7 linked regions of the Homo sapiens genome follow. The protein of the gene in region 1 purifies or fractionates together with the protein of each later gene. This does not show direct contact. Each region holds a gene or a part of one and is shown in the gene's direction. Other genes may lie near its edges.

Region 1 (4,212 bases):
CTGCTACCCCTGGACTAACTAATCATTACATATTTTTGTAGTTGTTTTTTCTTTCTTTCTCTCTCCTGATCTACCACAAGCCAAATGTACTCATATACATACTAATAGGTGAAAAAAGAGAGTCTGAGGAGTGAATACATTTATTTTGTGATTTCCTAGGCAGTAGCTAGGACTCCCTTAGAGGTTGCTAATAGGGAAAGGGTGCGCTGGCTCTACTCAGTTTTATAACTGCTTTTCCCCGAATTCTGCAGACATCTTCATTCCCCTGGAGGTCAGATAATGGCTATTTATTTTCCATAGCCATGAAAATCTCTGGGGAGAGCTGTGGCAATTTGACGAGAGCTATTAAAGGGACATTAGGATTGAAGTAGCTGCTCAGGCAGTCACATACCCTCGATCCTCATCTGCAGGGACAGCTGCCAGAACGAATGAGCCCAGCTCTCCTGCCCGCAGCCAGCCGCGTGTGGGTGCAACTGGCGACCAGCCACTGGAGTGAGTCCCAGGGAAGGGGACAGGTTCTTAGAATCACCATTTGTCTCTGCTCTCTCCCTCTCTGCAATAGGACGGGCACTCTAAACTCACATAATGGTTAATAACAACAGCTAACAATTACTGAGCACCTACTATGTGTCAGGCATGTGCTGAGGATGATCGCATCAAGTAAAATGCCTGTCTCTGGCCCAGAGGCCCAGAAGAAGAGAAAGAAGGGAAATCTGTAGGAGGCAAACAGTCCCTTACCCCTCTGCTTGCAGACCTTCAGTGACAGGACACTCCCTGTTTGCTCCAAGCACCTCTTGCATTTTCAGAGCTTGGGACACAGATTCAGGGACTTGCACTTCGATAGAGTGCCTCAGGACCCCTCGTCGGAGCCATGGAAAGTCAGTTTCTGGGCCCATCCTTCCTGTGGGGGTGTCTTTCCTTCTCTTGGCCACCCCCTAGGAATCCCTAGTAGAGAGCAGGCACTTAATAGCCAGTGCAGTGAGAGTGGTCTGTGATGTCTGGGCCAGGGCAAGGCCCGCCAAGTGGGCTCCCAGGTGCCTGCCACAGAGCCTCTGGGGTTTGAGGCCCTCAGTGACCCTTAGGCAATAGCTGGGTCTTAATGAGGGATCATGTCCTTTCCTGGGTAGTCGTGGGTAGAGGGGTGTGAACTGATCTGAGCTACTCTAGGAAGGCTAGAGACAAAAGCAGGAACCAAGAGAAGGGCTGAGGCTCCTTCCAAGAGACTCCAAGTCCTGAGGGCAAGAAGCGGAGAGCCTTGTGCCAGGCCAGGTGTTGCCCCTGTCAGTGCTGACGGACAGGCAAGAGAGGCTGCTGATGCTGCAGCCCTGTGAAGCTGAGACTCACCCTTTGCCCACTTTCACAGCCATCTCCCCAGGAGGCTGTGGTGACACAGGTAAAAGCCAAAGGACAGAGGATGACCCTGGACAAATCACTCAGACCCTCCAGTCCTCTTTGCTCATTTATAAAATACAGGCAAAAAGCCCCCTAGTACTAAATGAAATAGCCACTGTAAAAGAGCACGGGAGATAGGGTCTGTGATGTCTTTTGTCCCCAGTGTCCTGAGTGAATTCACAGGAAAGGGGAGAAAGACTGGTTGCCCACTTCCAGGGTGATTGGCTAATTTCCACTTCTTTCCTGCTAGGGATGGGAACACACGCCAGAATCCTGGGAAGGCTACATGTCCTCAGGTGGTGCTGGCCCCACCTCCAGCCTCTGCAGGGATACCAGGATATGAGCCAGGCTCTGCTCCCGGGGTGACCCATCCTCCTCAGTGCCCCTTCTTTCCTCACAACTGCAGGCAGAAGGAGAGTGTGTCCTGTCTCTCTGAGGAGCTGGCTGTGCCATTTAAGCAGGCCCTAGGGGTGGAGCGCTGTGAAGAGATGGCACCCAGGTCCCTGTTCCTCCTTTTCCAGAGCAAACACTGCTAAGGGATCATGACAGTCCCTGCATCTGGCCCAGACTGGGCCTTGGGAGGCTTTTGACATCAATCCATGCAACCGCACCCAACAATTGGAGTCAGCATGGGAGGTGAGACCCACTTGCCAATTTTGCTCTCAGGGAACAGCCCTCTTTACTAAAACATAGCACAGTATTGATAACAGTTGTTTCCAGGCATCGTAGAAAGCGTTTAGTGGGCATTAACGTCTTTGATCCTCACCACAAGGTCAGGGGTTGGATGATGTTAGCATGCTCATTGAAGGATCAGAAAAGTCAGGCTCAAGATAGCTCGCCCTTCATTCAGCCAGCCGGTGTTAACTGAATATTAACTGTGCACCCGTCTGTGCCAGTGTTCCCCCAGGAGCTGCAGAGGGTCCTGAGCAGAGTGAGCTCAAGCCACTTGGGAGCTCACATTCCAGCTATCAGTGCTGATTCATCTCAAATGTTTGATCCACGCTGGGTTCTAACCCTTCCCTGCTCAGAGCCCTCAGAGTCCAGGTCAGGTAGAACCCAGAACAGAGCCTCTGGCAGGAAGGAGCTTGCATGGTCCTCAGGCTTCATGTCCAGAGATCATTCCTCCACTTTGAGCTTCTTTGTGAAAACCAATCACAAAGAGAGGAGGGGTGAAATGTGCCAAAGCCTCTGCCAGGGTTGTAGCAAGGAAACCTGGGCTTCTAGGGAAAGTTGAGAAAGGGCCTATATTAGTCAGGAGGGCTACTGTAAGAGAGTACCACAGGCTGGGTGGCTTAAACAACAGAAATTTATCACCTTACGGTTCTGGAGGCTAGAAGTCTAAAATCAAAGTGTTGGCAAGGTTGGTTCCTTCATGAGGAATTTCTTGGCGTTGCCTGGCATATAGATGCATCACTGCAGTCTCTGCCTCGTTGTCACATGGCCATCTTCTCCCTGTGTCTATAGGTCTATGTCCAAATTTCCCTCTTCTTATAAAGACACCAGTCATATTGGCTTAGGCCCAGCCCAATGATTTCATCTTAATTTGATTACATCTCTGCTATGGTTTGAATGTGTCCCTTCCAAAATTCAGGTTATTGCCAATGTGATAGTATTGAGATGGGGTCCTTAAAGAAGTAATTAGGCCATGAGGGTGCCTCTCTCTGAAGGGAGGCTCATTGGATTGTATCAGTGTAACATAATTTACATAACCAGTTCTTTATGTGATGGAAATCCCATTCAACGGTTTCCAACCTTTGCTATTACAAACTGCTGTGAAGAGAAACATATGTCATTATACTAATCAGGTGCTGTTGTTGTTTTTATAATGCATTATCCTGGAGAGACTGCCCCTCCCAGGGCTAGCTACTTTGGGGAGAGAGTAAACAACTTGGTCGAGCGTGCCTTTCGTATGCAAACCAGTCAATCCAGAGCCCACACCCCCAGTCACCTCCTTTATCAAACTCTGACACAGCAAGCCAATATTCCCCCTGCCCTAAATCACTCCAGGGCCAGGCATGGGACAACTAGGGACAATCCCTATAGCCAGGGCCTGCCAAAGTTATACAGATTAGCCAATCCTAAGCCTGCTTCCCTGCCTTGCCTTGCCTTTCTGCTGGAAACTACATTAAAGGCGCTGGATCGTGCTTTTCCCTCACCCCCTCTGCTTCTTGGCTGACCCAAGTTCTTCCTGTGTGGCCCTGCAAGGCGTGACACACCTCTCCTCCTGGGAACTGCATAACAAACTCTTCTTGCAGAGATAGTTTTCTCTGTGTCTGTCATCTTACCATACCTGATGAAAACAAATATGGGTACATTTTTTTTTTTTTTTGAGAGAGAGGGTCTCACTCTGTCTCCCAGGCTGGAGTGCAGTGGTGTAATCACAGGTCACTGCAGCCTCGACCTCCTGGGCTCTAGTGATCCTCCCACGTCAGCCTTGCAAATAGCTGAGACTACAGGCACACACCACCATGCCTAGCTAATTTTTGGTGTATTTGTTATAGAGACAGAGTTTCGCTATGTTGCCCAGGCTGGTCTCAAACTCCTGAGCTCAAGTGATCCACCCACCTTAGCCTCTCAAAGTGCTGGGATTATAAGTGTGAGCCACAGCATCCAGCCATGGGTACATTTTAAAGCAGGCGTTTTGTTCATGTGCAGCCCTTGTTCTCAGTTAAGGGGAAAATGAGTGATCCTTTGCTTGGCTCTGAAGGAGCAGTGTTTTATATGTAAAGAATATATTCTGTATATTTAAAGAAGAGCAATGGGGGGCATTTGAAAATAAATCCGTTCATTTTTTTCTGATTGTAAAAATAATATATGCTC
Region 2 (3,500 bases), on another chromosome or scaffold:
AGCTGGGATTACAGGCATGCGCCACCATGCCCAGCTAATTTTGTATTTTTAGTAGAGACGGGGTTTCTCCATGTTGGTCAGGCTGGTCTTGAACTCCTGACCTCAGGTGATCCGCCCGCCTTGGCCTCCCAGAGTGCTAGGATTACAGGTGTGAGCCACCATGCCCGGCTCAAGAGCTTTTTAAAAACACTACTTGCTGGGCACGGTGGCTCACGCCTGTAATCCCAACACTTTAGGAGGCTGAAGTGGAAAGATTGCTTGAGCACAGGAGTTCAAGACCAGCCTAGACAACACAGTTGAGACCCTGTCTTTACGAAAAAAAAAAAAAAAAAAAAAAAAAAAAAGAAATTACCTAGGCATGGTGGTGCCTCCCAGCTGCTTGGGAGGCTGAGGTGGGAGGATTGCTTGATCCAAGGAGGTTGAGGCTGCAGTGAGCCATGATCATGCCACTGCTCTCCAGCCTGGGCAGCAGAGTGATACCTGCCTTAAACACACAAACACAACTCAAGTGAGACTTTGCTTCCCAGAGGCCTGAACTCTATTTCAGATGAATATTTTCTGTTACTTCCCCCCAGGAGCGAATCCGTTTAGCTCGACAGATTGAGAAATCTGAGTATCGGAACTTCCAGGCTTGCCTGCACAACTCTTGGATTGAGCAGGCAGCAGCTGCCCTGGAGATTGAGCTGGAAGAAGACATGTATAAGGGTAAGCCCTTGGGCGGGATGGGAATTGAGGAAGTTGAAATCTCTCTTTAACTTTTGCTTTGTTGGAACCATCTCTACTACTGTGGGTCTTGTCAAAATCAGCAAGGCGTCCTTCCCCCTCTTTGCTAACAGGCCCTGGTCCCAGGTGAGCCTACTGCCCTCGGTCAGTCTTTGTTTCCTCTGTCTCTGTCTTGTGCCCTCAGCTGCCTCCTCTTACATGGACAGGCAGTGGAGTACAGTGAGGAAGGGAGCAGGCTCTCTGGCCAGGCTGCCTGTGTTAGAATGCCGGCTCATTGCCTTAACTATGTGACTGAGTCAAGTTATTTAACCTCTGTTGTGTTCTCAGCTTTCTCCTCCATAAAATGGAAGTAGTCAACTACCTACTTCATGGGATTGTTGTGAAGACTGATTGAGTTAAAAAATGTTAAGTGCTTATAGCATTGCCTGGCAAATAGAAAGTATTACATTTTAAGTTATTTGTCATTATGGTTCCTACTACACCTGCCTTCCAAGCTGACAAAGCACTTCCATGCCATTATCTCATTTGATCTTCTCCACTTTCATGACATGAACACAGCAGGAAGTACTCTTCTTTTACATATGGAAACTAGATACCACAGCAGAGGCAGTTTGTGCAGGGAAACAGCTCTGTCACAAGGCATTTCCAGAGCTGCTACTCTATATGTGACCACAGGCTGAGGCTTCAGGGATGAATCTGCCCGGTCCCTGCTTGAGAAAACTCCTGGTCTAAAAAGTGGTAGAACCAAATCTAGAACTCCATGCTCCTTCCACACCACCAAGTATGCAGCTCAGCAGAGATGTTGACACCTCGGTGCCCAAGTCAGCAAATTCAGAGGCAGACTTAACTGCTGTCTGCTCAGCATGGAAGCCAGGAGCCAAACCAGTGGGCTTGATGACAGTGAGCTATTTCTGGTGGCTCAGGGTTGGGGCTTGGGCCGAAGATGTGGAGGCCCTGGCTTCCCTTCCTGAGGACAGACTGAGGTGGAACCTTTTGGCTCTGCCAGCTTCTCCATGTGCAGTCACAGCACTGGTGGCAAGGCATAGGAGAGCTGGGCTACAAAGAAGCATTCAGTGTCTCCTGGGGCGGCAGGGAGGTGGGGGTTGTAATTGTGAACTCACCAAACCCCAGGTGGGCAGTAAGTGGGTGGGTCATAGGAAGAAAAGTGATCTTCAGTCAGGAGACTTGGGTTCTGGGCTCTGTCTGATGACTGGCTCTGTGATGTGAGCCAGGTGACTTCTCTAACCCTGAGTTGCCTCATCTGTAAAGATAATTCCAGTCTTGGAGGATTTTTATGGAGTAAAAAAGGACAGAGCGGTCCTGTGTATCCCCTGCAAATGGTTAGACGTTATCCATTTACAGCCCCTGCCAAGCCACCACTAGCTTCTTCAGAGAACTTTTGAACCCTGCCTCCCTAAAGTAGTTCTAAAACATTTTTCACTGTGTTACCCATCAAGGGAAACAAAATGTTTCTACAAACCATAGTAAATAGGATCGTTTTTGTATTGTGTTTCAAGGAGGAAAAGCTGACCAGCAAGAAGAACGTCGGAGACAAAAGCAGATGAAGGTTCTGAAGAAGGAGCTGCGCCACCTGCTGTCCCAGCCACTGTTTACGGAGAGCCAGAAAACCAAGTATCCCACTCAGTCTGGCAAGCCGCCCCTGCTTGTGTCTGCCCCAAGTAAGAGCGAGTCTGCTTTGAGCTGTCTCTCCAAGCAGAAGAAGAAGAAGACAAAGAAGCCGAAGGAGCCACAGCCGGAACAGCCACAGCCAAGTACAAGTGCAAATTAACTGGTCAAGTGTGTCAGTGACTGCACATTGGTTTCTGTTCTCTGGCTATTTGCAAAACCTCTCCCACCCTTGTGTTTCACTCCACCACCAACCCCAGGTAAAAAAGTCTCCCTCTCTTCCACTCACACCCATAGCGGGAGAGACCTCATGCAGATTTGCATTGTTTTGGAGTAAGAATTCAATGCAGCAGCTTAATTTTTCTGTATTGCAGTGTTTATAGGCTTCTTGTGTGTTAAACTTGATTTCATAAATTAAAAACAATGGTCAGAGCCATTGTGTCATCCTGATTTTTTTTTTTTTTTTTTAGATAGAAGATGGGGGTGGTGGTGTAGTTTGTTTCATTATTAACTTAGTGATTCTCCTGGGCCAGCACAGTGCTAAGCCCTTGAAAGGACAGGAATAGTGTCAGGCCTCTGGCTGCAGGCCAAGATTGGACAGTGTGAATGGAGCAAGAGGCTGGAATGTTCAAGAGGTGCATGTTCCTGCTTTACCCAGAGCAGCACCCTAATAGCTCCTTAGCTCTCTCCACTCTCCTGGGTATTGTCTGAGCCACCGTGGGAGGTGGGCAGGGATGAGGTTGCTGTCTTCAGGCTTCCCTCACATCACAGAGCCAACAGTAACAGTCGCTAGGTCTGGCGTGTGAAGCCCTCAGGATCTAGCCCCAGCCTTGTCTCCACTCCCTCCTGTTTGACAGAGCAGGCTCCTGCCCACGGTTCCATGCACCCCTTCTCTTGTCCTGAGCCTTTGTGCAGAATAGGCTTTTCCCTCGGTCTGGATTGCCTTTTGGCCTTCTCCATCCTGGAGCACTGCCATGGGTCCTCTAGTCCTGAGCCTCTAAGGGGAAGCAGTGCTTCTCCTGGGGCTCCCTTAGTGTCCCGTGCTTACCCTCTTCATAGCACTTGCCATGCTGTGTTCCCTTAGCTGAGCTCCTTGGGAGAAGAGGAACTCAAGGCTTGGTCAGCCTGGTATAAATATGTGCTCAGGGAAC
Region 3 (4,212 bases), on another chromosome or scaffold:
CTGTCTCAAGCAATGAAAAAAAAAGTTCAAGCTCAGAGGTTTGTCACTTCCTAAGGCTGTCAGGTGATAGAACCTGGACTTCATGCTGGATCACAGGAGCCTGCCTGTCCCTTTGTAAATCTGTTGGGCATTTTTTTTTTTTTTTGAGATGGAGTCTTGCTCTGTCTCCCAGGCTGGAGTGTAATGGCGTGATCTCAGCTCACTGCAACCTCTGCCTCCCAGGTTCAAGCAATTTTCCTGCCTCAGCCACCTGAGTAGCTGGGACTACAAGCACACACCACCGTGCCTAGCTAATTTTTGTATTTCCAGTAGCGATGGGGTTTTGCCATGTTGGCTAGGCTGGTCTCAAACTCCTGACCTCAGGTGATCCACCCGCCTCAGTCTCCCAAAGTGCTGGGATTACAGGCATGAGCCACCACTCCCGGCCTCTGTCAGTCGTTTCTAAACTCTTTGGCTGTCTTCCTGCATTCTAGAGGTCTGAAGCAGTGTGATTCTATGCATGTTGAGGTGTTTTGAGAATGATTGCTTGACTCCGGTGTTCTCATAGTTTGAAAACCACAGCAATAAACCAAGAAACCTCTCCCAGTTTTTGTTGTGCTAAGTCCAGAGTGCGCTGCGGCAGGGTGCTTGACGATGTCTCTCTCCCTCTGCTGAATGGACTGTGTTCTCTCCTTGGCATCTTCCCAGGCTGTCAGCTTGTTGGAAGAGGTCATCACTCCCCGGAAGGACCTGCCTCCTTTACTCCTCAAATTGAATGAGAGGCCTGCCGAACGCCTGGATTACCTGGGTGTTTCCTATGGCTTGACCCCCAGGCTCCTCAAGTAAGTGCCTGCCCTCCTTCCACGGCATCACTCCTTGGCATTGAGAAAGAAGAGTTCTGTGGGCTGTGTGTCTCTGTTGGTAGCTGGTATCGGTGCTAGCCTGCTATTTGTGGCGTGCTCTTCCTGGCTCTTGCCCTTGTGTGTCTATCAGCCACTCCCCAGAGGCCACACACAGTGACCTACTGTCTTTGTATCTTTGCAGGTTCTGGAAACGAGCTGGATTTGTTCCTGTTTATCTGAGACAGACCCCGGTGAGTGAGGCATCCAGCAGAGGAGAAGTTTAGGTTTACCGTTATGGTAGGTGACAGGCCTGTCCTTGCAAAGAGCCCTAGTGCCTCCCTGCTGCATCGCTCTGAGCAGGTGGCTGTGCCTCTGAAGAGGTTTATTCTGATGGACATGGAAACAGCCATCCTCAGTGACAGGCCACATCATCACACATTTCTTCTCCGACTACACGGTGCATGCGTTGAGCTTAGTCATAAAATGGCAGAGGTACACGTGGACTTGTTCATCAGATTCTGGGAAAGGAGAGTGGACAGGAGGATCAAGGGTAATTCCTAGAGTTTTGGCTTGAGAAACTGGGTGTTGGAGGTGCTGTCGGAGATGGGACTCACTGCAGGAGGAGCAGATTTGGAGGGAAGAGTGGGAGTTCTTTTTTGATGTTAATATGAGATGCCTATTGGACATCCAAGTGGAAATGTGGACTAGGCATTCATTTGACTACAGGAATTTGGAGGTAGGGAAGTTTGGGGCTAGAGATGGAGCTTTGGGAGCCATCAGCATATTCATAATAGAATGCACTGCAGGAGGGCACGGAGCTCTTGTCTGTTGTGTTCATTGCTGTATTCCTCGCACTTAGAGTAGCAATTGCTGTGTAGTTTGTGTTCAGTAAATACTTTTGTTGAGTGAATGAAAAATATCTGGAGCCAATGAAAGGATGTGAGAGTGACTCCTTGGACCCTAACGTTTAGAGGAATGAAGAGGAGGACACAGCACATACAAGACTGAGAAGGAACAGCCCTGATGCGCAAGAGAAAGTCGGGTGTGGTGTCACACGTCAAGGTGAAAAAGTGGGAATGGGAGTCAGCCCTGTTGAGAGGATGAGGAGGATGAGGACAGCTGGCCATTGGATTTGTCAGCAGCGGTGAGCTGCATTGAAGCAGCTGCAGTGGAGTGGAGGCTTTGGCCTGGCCAGAGGGAAGAGGAGGTGAAGAACTAGAAGGGGAACAGGCGACTCTTTCAGGAAGCGAAAGGGAGCAGAGAAACAAGGTCGCTGGAGGGAGATGGGCGCTAAAGAAGGATTGTCCGATGGGAGATTCTAGAGAATGTTTTTTGCTGCTGGGTTCGATCCTGCAATTAGTGGTATGGGTGAGGGGGGCTGACTGCCAGAGTGCAGGCCTTGAGGAGGTGGTGGGTGGGACTCGAGATTCAGGAAGAGAGGTGACCACCTACTTCATCCTTCGGAACAGGGAAGGCAGAGAGCGTGGGAATGGAAGGCATCAGTTGGCTGGCTGATCTGGGGTTGGGAGGATGAAGACATTGTCTTCTGAGTGCTTCTGTCTTCCCAGATGAGGGGAGTCCATCGGCTGAGAGGGAAGTGTTGGAGGTTTGATTTTGGAGAGGGCAAAGTCAGTATCAGAGGCTAGTGTCCAGTGTCCGTCCGAGGGTTTAAAGTGGGACTGGTGAGGACTGCTGGGTGTTGGGCTGCTTCCGTGCAGGCAGGGAGCTGCAGAGATGGGTTGAGTCTCTGTCAGTACATTTGGTGGAGGCTGAGGATGTAAGTTTGGCTGTCAGCTGCAAGGAGAACGCAAGCTAGTGAGCTGTGGTGTGGTCTGCGGTGTGTCCGTGTGGTCTTGCACTGTGCACTGTTCATTTGTGACTTGGTGGTGTTTTTATGGTGTGGGGCTTTGTTGTTATGGAGTAAAAAATGTAAAAATAGTCACAATTTTAACACCTAAAGAAGCCTGCACTTGCAGACTGGCTGCCAGCACTGAGGTGTAGGTTTTGGCCCTGGAGTTCCTGCTGTGAGGCATCAAACCCATGTTGACTGGATTGTGTGGCGCTTAAGCCCTAATGACTGAGTTCAGCATCTACCTGAGAGGAGCACATATTTCCCTCCCGCACGTCCCGAGCAAGAGGCAGGCCCAGAAGAGCCAGCAGCTCTTCTCTGTGTCTGTGACACTTTTGAGGAGATTGCAGGACAGTGATCTTTGCAGCTGTTGTGTGTGAACTGAGGTGATATGAGGAAGGTGAAGGCGAGGGCTGTTTGAGAAGGGCGCCTACCCCCAGCCTGGAAAGAAGGAGAGGCCTGCGGAAGCACTAAGCCTTTCTTCTCTGAGTGTTTACCCTTCATCAATGATGGGTTATTCAAAAAAAGGGGGTTCTTGGTGCCAGTTAAACCTCTGTGTTGCCCAGAATGACCTGACCGGAGAGCACTCGTGCATCATGCTGAAGACGCTCACTGATGAGGATGAGGCTGACCAGGGAGGCTGGCTTGCAGCCTTCTGGAAAGGTGACTGAGGAGTAGGGGTTTGGGGGAGACAATGAGGTGATTGGGGGCTGCCGGGGATGCCTCCAGACCTCTAACTCTGCGTGATGGCACCCCACAGATTTCCGACGGCGGTTCCTAGCCTTGCTCTCCTACCAGTTCAGTACCTTCTCTCCTTCCCTGGCTCTGAACATCATTCAGAACAGGAACATGGGGAAGCCAGCCCAGCCTGGTGAGCCGGGTGGGGACAGGGAGGAGGGTTGGGAATGGCTTGGCTGTGTGGGAGGTGGGTGTGGTGTCCTAGGAAGGGTTTGGGCTGGAAATTGAGGGACTGGTTCTAGCCTGCAGTCACTCGCTGGTCACCACCCGCTTGCCAGGCCCCTGCTCTGTCCCAGGCTGTGCTGTCTTTCATTTTCATGGTAAGACTCTGGCTGTGCAATTTAATGTCAGAGGTGTCCATTTAGTTCATGTAGCTGGTTGGTTATGGAGGCCGATTTACATCTGTGCTCTAGGGGAGTGAGGTGCTCCATCTCTGAGGTTTAGTTTCCTGATTCATGAAATTGTAATAAGAATATGCTGCTAGCCTTCTGTAGCCAACAGCACACAGAAGTGCTTTGTGCATACAGATTGTTTGAATACTTAAAAAACAAAAAATGTGTAAGAGATTAGTTTTATTGCATATTTTATATATAAATATTTAGGTATAGCATGCATATATGTGTATATGTGTGTGTATATACTTTTTTGCCAATTATATTTTGATGGAGAAATCCGTATATCTTGAGCTGGGCAGAGCTTACACACTTTCTGTGACACCAAATGAAGTGACAAAGCAGGGAAAGAGTGTAGTTGTGTTCCCCTAACCCTGGGCCACAGGGAGCTTTTCCTTGGTCCATGTGTTCA
Region 4 (4,212 bases), on another chromosome or scaffold:
CCGTGTTGGTCAGGCTGGTCTCGAACTCCTGACCTCGAGTGATTGGCCAGCCTTGGCCTCCCAAAGTGCTGGGATTACAGGTGTGAGCCACTGGGCCCAGCCTGTTTCTGCCAGTTATAAGTGGCTCACATGACCTCGCCTCCTGCCCCGCTAGGCCTGAGCGAGCTGTGTTCCGGCTGAGGAAATGGATCATCTTTCGATTGGTGAGCATTGTGGACAGCCTGCACCTGGAGATGGAGGAGGCCTTGACTGAGCAGGTGGCCAGGTGCGAGCTGTGCTGGATTCCCAGCTTCCCATGGGCGTGTGGCCAAGGAATGGGGCCCCTTAACTCGTCCTAGTTTGCATCCCCTGGAGCCAGAAGCCTTTGGGTTGAGTCATCAGTGGGGGGCAGGCACAAGGGGACTTGGGAATTCCTCAGGAACCCGTGAAGGGAAGGGGCCCAGGAGGCACCCCAGCTGCAGGGGCCTAAAAGGTTCAGGTGTGCTCTGCGCGCCCTGCAGGCAGCTTTTGCACGTGGGAGGTGTCAGGGAAGCCTTCTGCCCCACACCTGCCTCGTCTGTGCCAGTGCAGAGCTGGGTGCTCACGTCACCCTCAACATGCACGGTTGCAAGAGGGGGCTGTCCCATGTTCGCAGGAGCAGTGACCTGACTTGGCCATGACCACACAGCCTCCCATCTGTTGGTTCCTTGAGAGGGGCACTGACTCTCTCTAGCTCGGGTTAACCCGCGTTCAGCTGGGGATCCAGAGCAGAGAAACGGCCCCTTCCCATCCTAGCCCAGCCCAGCCCCCTCCAGCCTTGCCCGTCAGGCCCCCGAGGACTGTACCCAGGGCAGAAGGGCGGCTCCTCCTCCTCCTGGCCTTGTACCCTCGGTGGTACCATCCAAGGAGGGGAGCCTGTAAAAACCAATGGCAGTGAATGGCTATGGCCACTCTCCCACCCTCCCCAGGTTTTGTTTGTTCCACTCGTTCTTTGTCACAAAGAAGCCCACATCCCAGATCCCTGAGACAAAGCACCCGTTCTCCTTCCCTTTGGAAAACCAGGCCCGAGAGGCTGTCAGCAGTGCCTTCTTCAGGTGAGTCTTGGGCAGCCCAGGAGAGGTCCGAAGGTGGGAAGGCCTTGAGGGCGCCTGCTCCCTCCAGGTCCCCTAAGCTGGGAACAACGGCAGAGGCCCCCGGAGTTCTAGTAGGTCCTGGAGAGGCGGGAGACCGAGCCCTGGGGAGGGCGGAGGGAGGCGGCTACATTGACTCATCTGGTCTGCTGACCCCAAGCCCCATCCCTTGCCCAGTCTGTTGCAGACCCTCAGCACGCAGTTCAAGCAGGCACCGGGCCAGACCCAGGGTGGGCAGCCCTGGACCTACCACCTGGTGCAGTTCGCAGACCTCCTGTTGAATCACAGCCACAACGTGACCACCGTGACACCCTTCACTGCGCAGCAGCGCCAGGCCTGGGACCGGTGAGCACGTGGGATTTCCAGGGGGTGGGCAGGACGCTGCAGTCTGACTGGTGCAGGGGCCTGGGAATCGCCTGTCTCCCCGCAGGATGCTGCAGACTCTGAAGGAGCTGGAGGCCCACTCCGCAGAGGCCAGGGCTGCTGCCTTCCAGCACCTTCTGCTCCTCGTGGGCATCCACCTCCTCAAGGTACTGGGGCCTGGGAGGGAGGGGCTGTGAGCCTGGGGTTCTATGGCACAATGGGCCCCCTACCGAGAGGCTTTTGAGGGCTGTGCGGGTTTCCAGGAAAGGTTCTGGGGGAGTTAAGTTGGGAGGTTTTTGAAGCCAACTTTGTCACAGGTGGAAACATCCCTCCGGCCACTTAGCGGCACCAGCTGGTGTCCTAGGCTTTCCATGCAGGATCTCGTAATCCCCACAGCTTTGAGGCAGACACCCCCTCTCCATGTTTGACATGGAGAAACTAAGACTCAGAGGCAAAGGAGCTTGCACTGTACCCCCTGCTGTGGGAACACCTTCTGGCAACGGGCTCTCCCGCTCGGTTCTTCCCATCAAGAAGCCCTGACCACATTCGAGGCTCAGTACCCTGATTTCTTTTGAGTTTTCTTCTCATGACATAAGCTGCTCTTATTGGGGCTGCTTTAGGTCTTCTGTAGCCTGAGTAGGTGGGTCTCTTGCTTGCTCCCGTCTGGCCACTTGACTGTGGTTGCCTTACTTGCCAGCTTTGGTTATTCTGAGCCCAGCATGTGGATGAGCTGTTTGGGGAAAGGTTGGCCACGATGCCCCTTCCAATTCTTGACGTCAGGCCTTTGATAGCAGCAGAGTCCTGGTGATTCCAGGACACATGTGGAGCCTGCCCCCAGCCTTGGGATCTCCGAACTTGACTTGGACAGAGGAGGCTGCAGTTTGCTGTGTCAGAGCCTTAGATAAAAGGTGCAGCCCTGGCCAGGCTCGGGGCTCGCACCTGTAATCCCAGTACTTCCGGAGACCAAGGCAGGTGATCACGAGGTCAGGAGTTCAAGACCAGCCTGGCCAACAGAGTGAAACCCCTTCTCTACTAAAATACAAAAATTAGCCAGGTGTGGTGGCAGGTGCCTGTAATCCCAGCTACTCAGGAGGGTGAAGCAGGAGAATTGCTTAAACCTGGGAGGCGGAGGTTGCAGTGAGTTGAGATGACACCACTGTACTCCAGCCTGGGCAACAGAACAAGATTCTGTCTTAGAAAAAAAAAAAAAAAGGTGCAGCCCAGAGGAGGACGGGGACCTGCTTGGGCACACAGCCTGGGAGCCGGAGAGCAATGACAAGGGCTTTGGGCTGCTTTGTCCCACCCTGGCCTAAACGTTCAAGCTGCCGACTGCATTATGAGGGGAAAGTCTGCTTTTTAGGTACCAAAGATCACACAGTTTTCAAGAGCTCCTGCACACGCACATGCGCACACCACGCCACCTCACTCGAGTCTGGGGTTATCCCCAGTCAGATGAGTTCAATGTAATTAAATTAGTTAAAACTAATGACTTTCAATTCTGTCTCTCATGCCAAGCCAAGCATGGAGGGAATAATCTAGAATTATGAATTGGGGGCTGGGGCTTGCTGGCTTCTCTGGGACCCTGACCATCCTTGTCAGGTTCTGCCTTTCTTGAGTGTCCAAGGGGGAGTTGGACTCCTTGTCCCCTTCAGGCTTTTGGATCCTGTAACTGCGTATTAGGTGTGAAAAAGCCGTCAGCTAGCTGGGCGCGGGGGCTCACACCTGCAATCCCAGCACTTTGGGAGGCCAAGGGGGGCAAGGGGGTGGATCACGAGGTCAGGAGTTCAAGACCAGCCTGGCCAACATGGTGAAACCCCGTCTCTACTCAAAATACAAAAATTAGCCGGGCATGGTGGTACACGCCTGCAATCCCAGCTACTTGGGAGGCTGAGGCAGGAGAATGGCTTGAACCTGGGAGGCAGAAGTTGTGGTGAGCCGAGATCAGACCACTGTACTCCAGCCTGGGCAATAGAGCGAGACTCCATCTCAAAAGCCCTCAGCTCTTGGGGTGTCCAGCTGGGGTCTTCTGTTCTGGATTGTGGGGGTGACTGGCCAGGGCGGGCCAGTGGCTGGGTGTTGGAGGCTTCTTGATGCCACTGCTGCCATTTGGCCAGCCCCTTGCCTGGTTTAGAAGGGCTGGGGACAGGGCCTGGCCCCAGTGTGTGTCCTACCCTGCCCGCAGTCCCCTGCAGAGAGCTGTGACCTGCTGGGTGACATCCAGACCTGCATCAGGAAAAGTCTGGGAGAGAAGCCCCGCCGGAGCCGCACCAAGACCATCGGTGGGTCCTTGGTCACGAGAGGGACTAGAGTGGTGGGGTGGGGCCAGCGGTCCCCTATCCGGGCTCAACCCCTCCCTCTTGCAGACCCCCAGGAACCCCCGTGGGTAGAGGTGCTGGTGGAGATCTTGCTGGCCCTGTTGGCCCAGCCCAGCCACCTCATGCGCCAGGTGGCCCGGAGCGTGTTTGGCCACATCTGCTCCCACCTGACCCCGCGTGCCCTGCAGCTAATTCTGGATGTGAGTTGGGACCTTTGGGAGTGGAATGTGGGCTGGGGCTCACTGAGCAGCGAGCTGCACCAGGGGTGCCGCTTCAGCCTCCAGCCTCCCTGCCGGGAGCCTGCGGCCGGTGGGAGGGGTCTCAACGAGGCCTTGGCCTGGCCTGGCCGCCTCTCCTAGGCTCCGTTTTCTTCTGGGAAATGGAGGTCTTTGGTCAAGGCTGAGTGGGGCCTGGAGAGGAGGGCG
Region 5 (4,212 bases), on another chromosome or scaffold:
TGGTGTTTGGTTTTCTTTTTCTTTTCTTTTCTATTTCTTTCTTTCCTTCTTTTTTGAGATGCAGTCTTTCTCTGTCACCCAGGCTGGAGTGCAGTGGCAGAGCTCGGCTCACTGCAACCTCCATCTCCCGGGTTCAAGCGATTCTTGTGCCTCAGCCTCCTGAGTAGCTGGGACTACAGGCACACACCACCACATCCAGCTAATTTTTGTATTTTCAGTAGAGACGGGGTTTCGCCATGTTGGCCAGGCTGGTATTGAACTCCTGACCTCAAGTGATCTGCCTGTCTCGGTCTCCCAAAGTGCTGGGATTACAGGCATGAGCCACCTCGCCTAGCCAGTGTTTAATTTTCTCTTCCTGCATTAGTTTGCTGGGGATAATGGCTTCCAACTCCATCCACATCCCTGCAAAGGACATGATCTCATTCCTTTTTATGGGTGCATAAATCCTATTTTTCTAAGAGTTGCTAATAGATAAGCTTTTTTCTAGGGAAGCAAATGTGGGAAACCAAACTTTCCAAAGTGAGAAATAGGATAATAGGGAGAGGAAAATATGAACAAATGAATGAGAAGTGTGTGGAAATGGATCAAAACAGATCTGAGTGATAAGGATTGGATTGTGGCTGATTGGGTAGCTAATTCACTGTTTAGAAAGTGGAAGTCATGTGGCAGTACACCTGGTTTGTTCCCCAGATTAGCTTGTTAGCTGATTAGTTTTGTTTACTTCTGCTCAAACTATCCTAGCCAGCCACCTCCTAAATTTATAATTTGAAGACATAAAGCAAGGACGTGAACTGATTTGTTCAAATCTGTATCTAAACTGGAGATACTCTGCTGAAAATATTTGCATAGATTTGAACAACTGTACTTACATGAAAAAATTTAAGGTATGTTTTAGTAATATTAAGACATTGAGGCCAGGCACAGTGGCTCACACCTGTAATCCCAGCACTTTGGGAGGCTGAGGTGGGCAGATCACTTGGGCCCAGGAGTTCAAGACCAGCCTGGGCAACATGGCATGGTGAAACACTGTATCTACAAAAAATACAAAAATTAGCTAGGTATATTGATGTGCACCTGTAGTCCCAGTTACTCAGGAGGCTGAGGTGGGAAGATTGCTTGAACCCAGGAGGCAGAGGTTGCAGTGGGATAAGATCATGCCATAGCACTTCAGCCTGGGTAACAAGAGTGAAACCCTGCCTCAAAAAAAAAAAAAAGAAAAAGAAAAAAAGGTATTGAGTGTTTTACTTAGCATAGCATAGCCTTCAAATCAGAAATGGAGTTTGCATTTAAAATGAATATTATTTTTGCCTATTTTGGTTTTTCCATAGGTACAATAACTTGCCTGAAATTCTATGGCAACAGGCATTTAATCAGTGGAGCGGAAGATGGACTCATCTGTATCTGGGATGCAAAGAAATGGGAATGCCTGAAGTCAATTAAAGCTCACAAGTGAGTCGGGCTCTTTCCCTTTGGCATTCTCGATGTGCCAGTCAAGTTGGGGACTAACTTTTGGTTTCATTATAGAGGACAGGTGACCTTCCTTTCTATTCACCCATCTGGCAAGTTGGCCCTGTCGGTTGGTACAGATAAAACTTTAAGGTAAGTCATTAATGCTCAAGAGCATTTATCTAAGGTGTGTGTTTTACTACAGCTCTCCACCATCTAAAAATACTGTTATACAAGGGAAAGGTCAAAAGCTGGTGAACCTTTTCATAGTGGTTCATAGTGGTAGAATGAAAATGACAAGCTCTGTTTTCTTTCTTTTTTTTTTGAGACAGAGTCTCGCTCTGTCTCCCTGCTCTGTCGCCCAGGCTGGAGTGCGGCGGCGTGATCTTGGCTCACTGCAAGCTCCGCCTCCCAGGTTCATGCCATTCTCCTGCCTCAGCCTCCCAAGTAGCTGGAACTACAGGCGCCCACCACCACGCCCGGCTATTTTTTGTATTTTTAGTAGAGACGGGGTTTCACCGTGTTAGCCAGGATGGTCTTGATCTCCTGACCTCATGATCCGCCCGCCTCAGCCTCCGAAAGTGCTGGGATTACAGGCGTGAGCCACCACGCCCAGCCAACAAGCTCCGTTTTCAAACATGCAATTATGCTGCAGTCATCATAGCTGTGAATTGAAGATTTTAGAAAGGGAAACCTTTTGAAAATACAATGGATACGAGATGTTAAAGGGATATGGGAATGAAGCAAGTCTTAATCCTGCCTCATAATATTTCAAAATATTGCTGTAAGGAAGATAGCAGGTCTTCTAAATAGCCAATATTTAGTAAAATGTCACTTAAGTCTTCATTATGCTTGTTCTTTTACGCTTAGTAAAAGTTAGTTGGTGATCACACCGTAAGTGAGCTTCCTGTTTTGCAGAACGTGGAATCTTGTAGAAGGAAGATCAGCATTCATAAAAAATATAAAACAAAGTGAGTATTTTTGTTTGAAATGCAGGTTGAGCATTCCTAATCTGGAAATCTGAAATGCTCCAAAATCTGAAACTTTTTGAGCACTGATGTGGTGCCTCAAGTAGAAAATTCAACACCTTACCTCATGATGGGTCACAGTCAGAACCTTGTTTCATACACAAAATTATTTAAAATATTGTGTAAAATTACCTTCCGGCTAGGTGTATATGAAGCATAGATGAATTTCATGTTTAGACTTGAAACATGAGTTGCATGGGTTTTATCCTCGAGATATTTCATTGTATATATGCAGATATTCCAAAATCCAAAATCGTTCTGGTCCCAAGCATTTTGGATAAGGGATACTCAACCTGTATATTTTACAGTGACTTAATGGAATATGAATATAGATATACATTTTTACATGTGTGTATGTTACACATTTATTTCCCTGCATGGTGGTGGTTACCTCTGAGCAAATGCCTTGGGTTACTTTCTTTTCCCATTTTAGACTAGATTCTTTTTGTGGCTCTGCCACCTGCCTTTGATTTTTATTTTGTTTCATTTTATTTTATTTTATATTTTTTATTTTATTTTATTTTTTGAGATGGAGTCTCGCTCTATCACCCAGGCTGGAGTGCAGTGGCGCTATCTCAGCTCCCTACAACCTCTGCCTTCTGAGTTCGTTATTCTCCTGCCTCACCCTCCCAAGCAGCTGGGATTACAGGCGCGTGCCACCATGCTTGGCTAATTTTTTGTATTTTTTGGTAGAGAGATGGGGTTTCACCATGTTTGCCAGGCTGGTCTCAAACTCCTGGCCTTAAGTGATCCACCCACCTTGGCCTCCCAAAGTGCTGGCATTACAGGTGTGAGCCACTGCACCTGGCCCACCTTTGACTTTTTGAACCTAGATTATTTTCTAAAAAACTTGACTTGTAAAATGTGTTACGAAGATGAAATAGGATAATGAATTTGAAAATGCACAGTATAAATATTTGCTATTTTTATTACTATGATCATTTTATGTTTTATTTACAAAATAAATAAACTTCGTTTTTTTCCACTTACAGATGCTCACATAGTAGAATGGTCCCCAAGAGGAGAGCAGTATGTAGTTATCATACAGAATAAAATAGACATCTATCAGCTTGACACTGCATCCATTAGTGGCACCATCACAAATGAAAAGAGAATTTCCTCTGTTAAATTTCTTTCAGTAAGTAATCAGAAATCATTGACCAAAGTTTGTGGTGATGGTTGGAACTGTTGATGACATTCTGGATGTTATTACTCTTTTTCCTCTCTCCTAGGAGTCTGTCCTTGCAGTGGCTGGAGATGAAGAAGTTATAAGGTTTTTTGACTGTGATTCACTAGTGTGCCTCTGCGAATTTAAAGCTCATGAAAACAGGTATTTTTACCAATCTTTGGTGTATATGTCTAGTCTTAATAAAAGGTATATATGCAGTAGTTTCATAAGCCAGGTTATATGTTTTTATTAACAACTGCAGAAATAATCAGACATATCTACATGTACAGTATATGGTATCTGTAGTCTAATAAGGTGGTGGAAGATGTTATCTTCCTGGCATTTAATAATGCAAAAGTGGGCCGGGAGCAGTAGCTCACGCCTGTAATCCCAACACTTTGGGAGGCTGAGGCGGGCGGATCAGGAGGTCAAGAGATCAAGACCATCCTGGCCAACATGGTGAAACCCCGTCTCTACTAAAAATAAAAAAATTGGTGTGGTGGTGCACGCTGGTAGTCCCAGTTACTCGAGAGGGTGAGGCAGGAGAATCACTTGAACCCTGGAGGCGGA
Region 6 (3,500 bases), on another chromosome or scaffold:
GTATCCCATGAGCTTATCCAAATCCCTTATGAAAATCTGGTTTATAGGCCAAGCACGGTGGCTCATGTAATCCTAGCAGTTTGGGAGGCCGGAGTGGGTGGGTTGCCTGAGCTCAGGAGTTTGAGACCAGCCTGGGCAACATGGGAAAACCCCACCTCTACTAAAAATACAAAAATTCGCTGGGTGTGGTGGTGGGCGCCTGTAGTCCCAGGTACTCGGGAGGCTGAGGCATGAGAATAACTTGAACTCAGGAGTGGAGGTTTCAGTGAGCTGAGATTGTGCCACTTCACTACAGCCTGGGCGACAGAGCGAGACTCTGTCTCAAAAAAGAAAATCTGTTTTACAACTGTTTGACCCACATGAGTTGAATAGTTACTAAGGGGCACTCTTCATTTTCCAAGATAGTGAAACTATTGATATATACCCGTCTATATATATAGCTAAGAAGCGATTTTAGAAAAAGCTTACTATTTTGATTTTTACCTTATCACAGCATGAAAGTACAAATGTCGAAATGCCCCAAAATTGTATTTTTTAAAGTTGAAAATGATCTTGAAATAATCCAGAATTGATGAATGTTGCAAATGTATAAATGCCTTATTCAGTGTTTGTATTTTCCTTATGAATTTTTTTTAGAAAGAGAAAAAAGAGAAGCCAAAATCTGATAAGACTGAAGAGATAGCAGAAGAGGAAGAAACTGTTTTCCCCAAAGCTAAACAAGTTAAAAAGAAAGCAGAGCCTTCTGAAGTTGACATGAATTCTCCTAAATCCAAAAAGGCAAAAAAGAAAGAGGAGCCATCTCAAAATGACATTTCTCCTAAAACCAAAAGTTTGAGAAAGAAAAAGGAGCCCATTGAAAAGAAAGTGGTTTCTTCTAAAACCAAAAAAGTGACAAAAAATGAGGAGCCTTCTGAGGAAGAAATAGATGCTCCTAAGCCCAAGAAGATGAAGAAAGAAAAGGAAATGAATGGAGAAACTAGAGAGAAAAGCCCCAAACTGAAGAATGGATTTCCTCATCCTGAACCGGACTGTAACCCCAGTGAAGCTGCCAGTGAAGAAAGTAACAGTGAGATAGAGCAGGTACATTTGCACTTCATTGGGTAGAAGATATCTTTCATTGTTGTTTCAGATAAATAAGTAGGTAACTGCTATATGTACTCTTTAATAGTAGGAGAAAATGTGATGTGTCAGCACCTTGTGGGTTGGGGGATACCTTAGGCTGACTGGGACTTCATCTTAAAAATTAGCATACGACAGGGCATGGTGGCTCAGCTAAGAGTACTCTGTCTTTTTTATTTTTTTATTTTTTTGAGACAGAGTCTCGCTCTGTCACCTAGGCTGGAGTACAGTGGCACGATCTCAGCTCACTGCAACCTCTGCCTCCTGGGTTCAAGTGATTCTCCTACCTTAGCCTCCTCAGTAGGTGGGATTACGGGTGTGTGCTATCACGCCTGGCTAATTTTTTGTATTTTTAGTAGAGGCGGGCTTTCACCATGTTGGCCAGGCTGGTCTCGAACTCCCAACCCCAGGTGATCTGCCCGCCTGGGCCTCCCAAAGTGTTGGGATTACAGGCATGAGCTACTGTTCCCAGCGGACTCTGTCTTTAAAAAAAAAAAAAAAAAAATTAGCATAGTGTCACAATGCCTCCTTTACAAATAAGCAGATACTGCTTAAGCTTAGGGAGAGTCTTGGTCTGCTTATTTGCAAGTCAGTCAACAGAAGAGATACAGTTTTGTAAATGGGCCCTAGTTTCCCTCTGAGGGGTTTAACCAAATAAATTATTGGAATTACTGAAAAGGTTGATTGCATAAGTCCTTTTGGTTAGGCCATTAAGTAATCATCCTGGAGTTGAACAGGATGATAAAATGTCTGTCCAGAACCTAATTCTGTTATCTTTCAGAAACTCAGTTATGAAAGAAATACGAATTGTATTAAAAAAATTTGTTTTAGACATGGGATCTCGCTGTGTGGCCCAGGCTGGTCTAGAACTTGTGGCTTCAAGCGATAATCCCGCCTAAGCCTCCCGAGTAGCTGGGATTACAGGCACAAGCCACCACACCCAGCTGAAAAATACTAATTCTAATAGATTTTCTTTTTGCTATAGATCATGGTCAACATTTGTAACTTTTTTCCTGATTATAAAAAATATGTGATCCAGAGAAAATAGAAAATGCAGACATTTTGCAAAAAGAAAGAAATGCTTCCTGGAATTTCACCATTCATTTAGTAAATATTAATACCTGTACTTTTCAAGTACAGAAGTCATCTTGTTAATTTTTGGTGTTTCCTTGTAGTACTTTTAGTATATGCATCTATTATTTTTAATCAGATTAGGATTGTACTGTGCAATCTTGTATCTTTTTTGTTTCTAGCTAAGCATTTTCCTCGTTAAGTACGCTTAATGGTTACATAATCCTTCATATAAATGTCTTGAAATCTACTTACTACTTGTATTGAGCATTCAGATATCTTACTATCAAATAATGCCACAGTGACTGCTACCTCATAAAATGTTTGTTCATTTTCTATGGATGTGTGTATACAAGAGATGCTGCTTTGGAAGAGGGCTAATGACATTTCCATCAGTATATTGTTGATTATGGTTATGGAGTAGATCTTAGTTGAGATCTAGTCACACATAATCTTAGTTGAGATCTTAGTTGAGATCTAGTTACCCAGTATATATTTGCCTCAGATTTTTCTTTTGTTAAAGTTTTATAGATTTATGACAATGTTTCCTTTTCAGATCTCGAGTTACCTATCAAGGTTTTTGTATCTTTTTGGTTGATTTTTAAAGTGATGTGTTTAGAAGAATTGCTTTAGGATAGCTTGTTTTGTCTCTTTCTCAGAAGGTTCTCTATTAATTTGTGTAGGTGATTATTGATTTCTTTCTATGGCCCTTTACTTGATAGGAAATACCTGTGGAACAAAAAGAAGGCGCTTTCTCTAATTTTCCCATATCTGAAGAAACTATTAAACTTCTCAAAGGTAATGTTCTTGGAAATATCGTATGATGTTAGAACGTATTATTTTAACAGAAGCACTCCACTATTTTTGTTAAGATGAACCAGGATGTATTCTTATTGTAGGCTGATATATGCAGTCATATAATGAAGTAGGCCTGTGTATTCAATTTAGTACTATAGTAGTGATGGTTCTTCATGCTTCTTAAACAAGTGGTTAAAGCTTTTTCAGGCCCTCTGTGGTGGCTCACACCTGTAATTGATTGAGGCCAGGAGTTTGAGATCTTCCTGGGTAACATAGTGAGAACCTGTCCCGACAAAAAGTTTAAAAATTAGCTGGGCACGTGGTAACACACATCTATAGTCCTAACTACTCCAGAGGCTGAGGAAGGAAGATCGCTTGAGCCCAGGAGTTCAAGGCTTCAGTGAACTGTGGTCACACCACTGCACGCCAGCCTGGGTGACAGAATGAAACCCTGTCTCAAAAAAAATTGTATTTAATACAGTGTGTATTCAGAAGTGTATTGACTAATGGTG
Region 7 (4,212 bases), on another chromosome or scaffold:
TGGAACTCCATAGTGTCAGCTGCATCAGTATTAAAGTCGGTTTTCTCTCCACAGCTTTTCCTCTTCAATTTCTATCCCTTTTTGCAAAGGTTTCTGCAGCCCCACCAAAGAGGTAAGCTGCCACTTGCCATGTTTCTTTGGTGGCCTTGGTAATAGAATAAACATGCAAAGTCTTTTGTTCTGGAATCACTAAAGACAGGAGTGCAGTGTGCTCTACATTAGAGATGTGAAGAGAAGCCCTTGTTTTCTTTCTAGAGTTTGCTATGGGTTTGTCGTTACCCTCAACTTTAAGAAACTATTGTTTTTTTAAAACAACAACAACTGCCGGGCACAGTGGCTCAGGCCTGTAATCCCAGCACTTTGGGAGGCCAAGATGGGTGGATTACCTGAGGTCAGGAGTTCAAGACCAGCCTGGCCAACATGGTGAAACTTCATCTGTACTAAAAATACAAAAATTAGCCGGATGTGGTGTCGGGCACCTGTAATCCCAGCTACTCAGGAGGCTGAGACAGAATCGCTTGAACCCAGGAGGCGAAGGTTGCTGTGAGCCGAGATTGTGCCCTTGCACTCCAGCCTGGGTGACAGAGCAAAACTCTGTCTCAAAAAGAAAAGAAAAGAAAACAACAACAACAAATTGGTTTCTCAAAGCAAGTCTTCTTGTAATACTGTAAATACTCATGGAAAATTCTTTTTTAAAAAATTGACGTTTTATTGCATCTTCATAATAGATATTAAGATTTGATCTCACTGCTCACATTGACCTTGCATGCATTCTCAATGAAAAACAACACAAAAGCAGGAAAGAAGAGATGATTGTTCTTGTCTTTGAACCTGAACCAAAGTAGGAAGGAAACTAACATTTATTCAGTATCTAACATGGACCAAGCACTGTGCTAAGTGCCTTACATACGTCATTTTGTCTAATCCTCACATTAATCTTGTGAGGTATACAAAGAGAGGGAAAAAAAAGACTAGAGTCACTCAGCAAATAAATGGAAAATCAGGATTCACCTCACTTCTTTTGCCAGTGGCCTTGTTTGTTACCTATGCTATGCTGCCCCTTTGAAAAGAGACAGTGTGTGTGTGTGTGTGTGTGTGTGTGTGTGTGTGTGTGTGTGTGTATGCATTCATTCAGCAAGTATTTATTTAATGATTTTTATGCCAGGCACTGCATTAAGACAGTACGAATTCCACAGTAAACGTAAAACAAGGTCCTTACCCTCATGGCTTACATCTGGAGGCAGATGTAGATGTGCTATATATAATATGTCCAGGTAAAGATAAGTGTTTTGAAGGAAAAGGAAGCAGGATAAGGACAATAGGGAGTGTCGGGACGGGTTCTGTTTTACATTGTGTGGTCAGGAGAGACTTTTTGATAAGGCAGCTATTGAGTAGGGACCTGAAGAAAGTGAGGGGGTAAGCCAAGCAGATATCTGGGGATTGAGTGTTCCAGGTGGAATACGCAGCAATACCATTTAGACCAGAATGAGCTTGCCATGTTTGCTGTGGTCCTCAGAGGCAGGGTGATACACTGACCATGACCTTTCTGTTCTCTTATGTTTTCAGAAGTAACCAAGATCCTTCTGTTTGCTGCACAAGCATCTCATCACCTAGTACCCCCAGAGGTGAGAACCTGTAACCTGACTTCTGGACCTAGGGCATGGATGACAGTGTTACTGTTAGGTACTTCAGGGTCTATCGGGGGAACCTGCCCCCGATAATTCAACGTGGGTTTTTTTCTATTTCTTGTCAGATGGTCTGAGAAATGAAGGGAAAGAGTACAAAAGAGAGAAATTTTAAAGCTGGGCGTCCAGGGGAGACATCACATGTCGGCAGGTTCTGTGATGCCCCACAAGCTCCAAACCAGCAAGGTTTTATTAGTGATTTTCGAAAGGGGAGGGAGTGTAAGAATAGAGTGTGGGTCACAGAGATCACATGCTTCACAAGGTAATAAAATATTACAAGGCAAATGGAGGCAGGACGAGATCACAGGACCAGGGCGAAATTAAAATTGCTAATGAAGTTTCGGGCACGCATTGTCATTGATAACATCTTATCAGGAGACAGGGTTTGAGAGCAGACAGCCAGTCTGACCAAAATTTATTAGGCGGGAATTTCCTCATCCTAATAAGCCTGGGAGTGCCACGGGAGACCGGGGCTTATTTCATCCCTTATCTACAACCTTAAAAGACAGATGTCCCTAGAGCGGCCATTTCAGAGACCTACCTCTAGGAACACATTCTCTTTCTCAGGGCTGTTCCTTGCTTAGAAAAAGAATTCAGCAATATTTCTCCTATTTGCTTTTGAAAGAAGAGAAATATGGCTCTGTTCTGCCTGGCTCTCAGGCAGCCAGACCTAATGGTTATCTCCCTTGTTCCCTGAACATCGCTGTTACCCTGTTCTTTTTTCAAGATTTCATATTGTTTAAACAATTTGTGCAGTTAACACAATCATCACAGGGTCCTGAGGCTACATACATCCTCAGTTTATGAAGATGACGGGATTAAGAGATTAAAGACAGGCATAGGAAATCACAAGAGTATTGATTGGGGAAATGATACATGTCTATGAAATCTTCACAATTTATGTTCAGAGATTGCAGCAAAGACAGGCATAAGAAATTATTAATTTTGGGAACTAATAAATGTCCATGAAATCTTCACAATTTATGTTCTTCTGCCATGGCTTCAGCTGGTTCCTCCATTCGGGGTCTCTGACTTCCCACAACAAGGGTCATTTTTCCCACAAGGGTTACTGTCCCCCCTTCCCTCACCGTTTTCTTCTTTTAATAGATAGAAGAGACACTAACTCTTAAGGGGATCTACACAGAAGTTCAGTTGTACGTCTCATAAAAAGAAGTTTCTTTCAGACAAGTTGTTTAGAATTCTGATTTTCTTTAATAAGCAAATTTTGTATAACTAGGGGAGGTCAAGAATATTAGTAAATTTATAGAGTAATTCCTTTCTTTGATTTAGTCTGAGGATAGCCAAGAAAAACACTGAATTCCTAAGTGGAGTGTTTTCTTCTGTCTTCCTTAATCTTGATTACTTCCAATTCCTAAACTGAAGGTGGAAGGCTGGGTTTTCCACTATGAATAATCTATTGTCCTTTCATTCTTATGTGTTTGTGTATGCAGACATTTAATCAGCACCCATCTCTTTTTTGTTTCCAATTCAGATTATTCAATCATTGCTTATGACTGTGGCAAACAATTTTGTTACCGACAAGAACTCTGGAGAAGTCATGACAGTAGGGTATGTAGAATCTGGTTGGAGGCAGAAGATACATTGTTTAATGGACTAGATTTGCTATAAGTTACCAAGATGTAAGATTGTAGCTGGTAGTATCACCTCTATAAAATTGGTTTAAAATATATTTCAGTCTTTTTGGGAGGCTTGATAATTTTTTTATTGGTCAGAATTTTGAGAAGGGAGCCAGAGAAAAGATACTTTTCCTTCTAATTAGCATTTTTGTTTTTTAGCAGTTTTACTTTTACAGATGAATAATTGATTAGCAAACTAAGTGCTTTTCTTCTGATCTCCCACCGTAAACTTTGTACTGCTAATAAAATAAATATTTGGCTCCTAGTTCTGGAGCTGGGAAGTCCAAGGGCATGGCATTGGTGTCTGTCTGGCACCTGGTGGGGGCCTCGTTGCTGCATCATTGGCAGAAGGCACAAGGGGAAGAGAGCACAAGAGCCAACAGAGGGCCAAACTCACTTTTTTATAACTCACTGGTGATAAGGGACCTTCTCCCAAGATAACAACATTAGGCCTAATCACTTCTTAAGAGTCTCTCCTCTTTGAACTACAAACCACTGCTCAACAAAATAAAAGAGGATACCAACAAATGGAAGAACATTCCATGCTCATGGATAGGAAGAATCAATATCATGAAAATGGCCATACTGCCCAAGGTAATTTATAGATTCAATGCCATCCCCATCAAGCTACCAGTGGCTTTCTTCACAGAATTGGAAAAAACTACTTTAAAGTTCATATGGAACCAAAAAAGAGCCCACATTGCCAAGACAATCCTAAGCCAAAAGAACAAAGCTGGAGTCACGCTACCTGACTTCAAACTATACTACAAGGCTACAGTAACCAAAACAGCATGGTACTGGTACCAAAACAGAGATAGAGACCAATGGAACAGAACAGAGCCCTCAGATATAATACCACACATCTATAACCATCTGTTCTTTGACAAACC

What was found.
Region 2: the proteins of RBM28 (region 1) and DDX24 purify together in Homo sapiens (affinity purification with mass spectrometry; one large-scale study listed by BioGRID and IntAct). This does not show direct contact.
Region 3: the proteins of RBM28 (region 1) and NAT10 purify together in Homo sapiens (affinity purification with mass spectrometry; one large-scale study listed by BioGRID and IntAct). This does not show direct contact.
Region 4: the proteins of RBM28 (region 1) and MYBBP1A purify together in Homo sapiens (affinity purification with mass spectrometry; one large-scale study listed by BioGRID and IntAct). This does not show direct contact.
Region 5: the proteins of RBM28 (region 1) and PAK1IP1 purify together in Homo sapiens (affinity purification with mass spectrometry; one large-scale study listed by BioGRID and IntAct). This does not show direct contact.
Region 6: the proteins of RBM28 (region 1) and DDX21 purify together in Homo sapiens (affinity purification with mass spectrometry; one large-scale study listed by BioGRID and IntAct). This does not show direct contact.
Region 7: the proteins of RBM28 (region 1) and SDAD1 fractionate together in Homo sapiens (co-fractionation; one large-scale study listed by BioGRID). This does not show direct contact.

Annotation. Positions count from the first base shown.
Region 1 is NC_000007.14:128,298,524-128,302,735, reverse strand, and holds part of RBM28 (RNA-binding protein 28), read left to right. Parts: 3' UTR 1-4,212. UniProt on the Homo sapiens protein: Nucleolar component of the spliceosomal ribonucleoprotein complexes.
Region 2 is NC_000014.9:94,050,203-94,053,702, reverse strand, and holds part of DDX24 (ATP-dependent RNA helicase DDX24), read left to right. Parts: intron 1-575; coding exon 576-705; intron 706-2,240; coding exon 2,241-2,512; 3' UTR 2,513-3,500. UniProt on the Homo sapiens protein: ATP-dependent RNA helicase that plays a role in various aspects of RNA metabolism including pre-mRNA splicing and is thereby involved in different biological processes such as cell cycle regulation or innate immunity.
Region 3 is NC_000011.10:34,135,955-34,140,166, forward strand, and holds part of NAT10 (RNA cytidine acetyltransferase), read left to right. Parts: intron 1-687; coding exon 688-821; intron 822-1,023; coding exon 1,024-1,072; intron 1,073-3,236; coding exon 3,237-3,333; intron 3,334-3,430; coding exon 3,431-3,541; intron 3,542-4,212. UniProt on the Homo sapiens protein: RNA cytidine acetyltransferase that catalyzes the formation of N(4)-acetylcytidine (ac4C) modification on mRNAs, 18S rRNA and tRNAs.
Region 4 is NC_000017.11:4,545,385-4,549,596, reverse strand, and holds part of MYBBP1A (myb-binding protein 1A), read left to right. Parts: intron 1-154; coding exon 155-265; intron 266-947; coding exon 948-1,073; intron 1,074-1,286; coding exon 1,287-1,454; intron 1,455-1,539; coding exon 1,540-1,639; intron 1,640-3,654; coding exon 3,655-3,751; intron 3,752-3,835; coding exon 3,836-3,987; intron 3,988-4,212. UniProt on the Homo sapiens protein: May activate or repress transcription via interactions with sequence specific DNA-binding proteins. Repression may be mediated at least in part by histone deacetylase activity (HDAC activity).
Region 5 is NC_000006.12:10,701,041-10,705,252, forward strand, and holds part of PAK1IP1 (p21-activated protein kinase-interacting protein 1), read left to right. Parts: intron 1-1,328; coding exon 1,329-1,449; intron 1,450-1,524; coding exon 1,525-1,599; intron 1,600-2,364; coding exon 2,365-2,417; intron 2,418-3,466; coding exon 3,467-3,612; intron 3,613-3,706; coding exon 3,707-3,804; intron 3,805-4,212. UniProt on the Homo sapiens protein: Negatively regulates the PAK1 kinase. PAK1 is a member of the PAK kinase family, which has been shown to play a positive role in the regulation of signaling pathways involving MAPK8 and RELA.
Region 6 is NC_000010.11:68,959,170-68,962,669, forward strand, and holds part of DDX21 (nucleolar RNA helicase 2), read left to right. Parts: intron 1-636; coding exon 637-1,080; intron 1,081-2,912; coding exon 2,913-2,988; intron 2,989-3,500.
Region 7 is NC_000004.12:75,963,177-75,967,388, reverse strand, and holds part of SDAD1 (protein SDA1 homolog), read left to right. Parts: intron 1-54; coding exon 55-112; intron 113-1,566; coding exon 1,567-1,625; intron 1,626-3,177; coding exon 3,178-3,254; intron 3,255-4,212.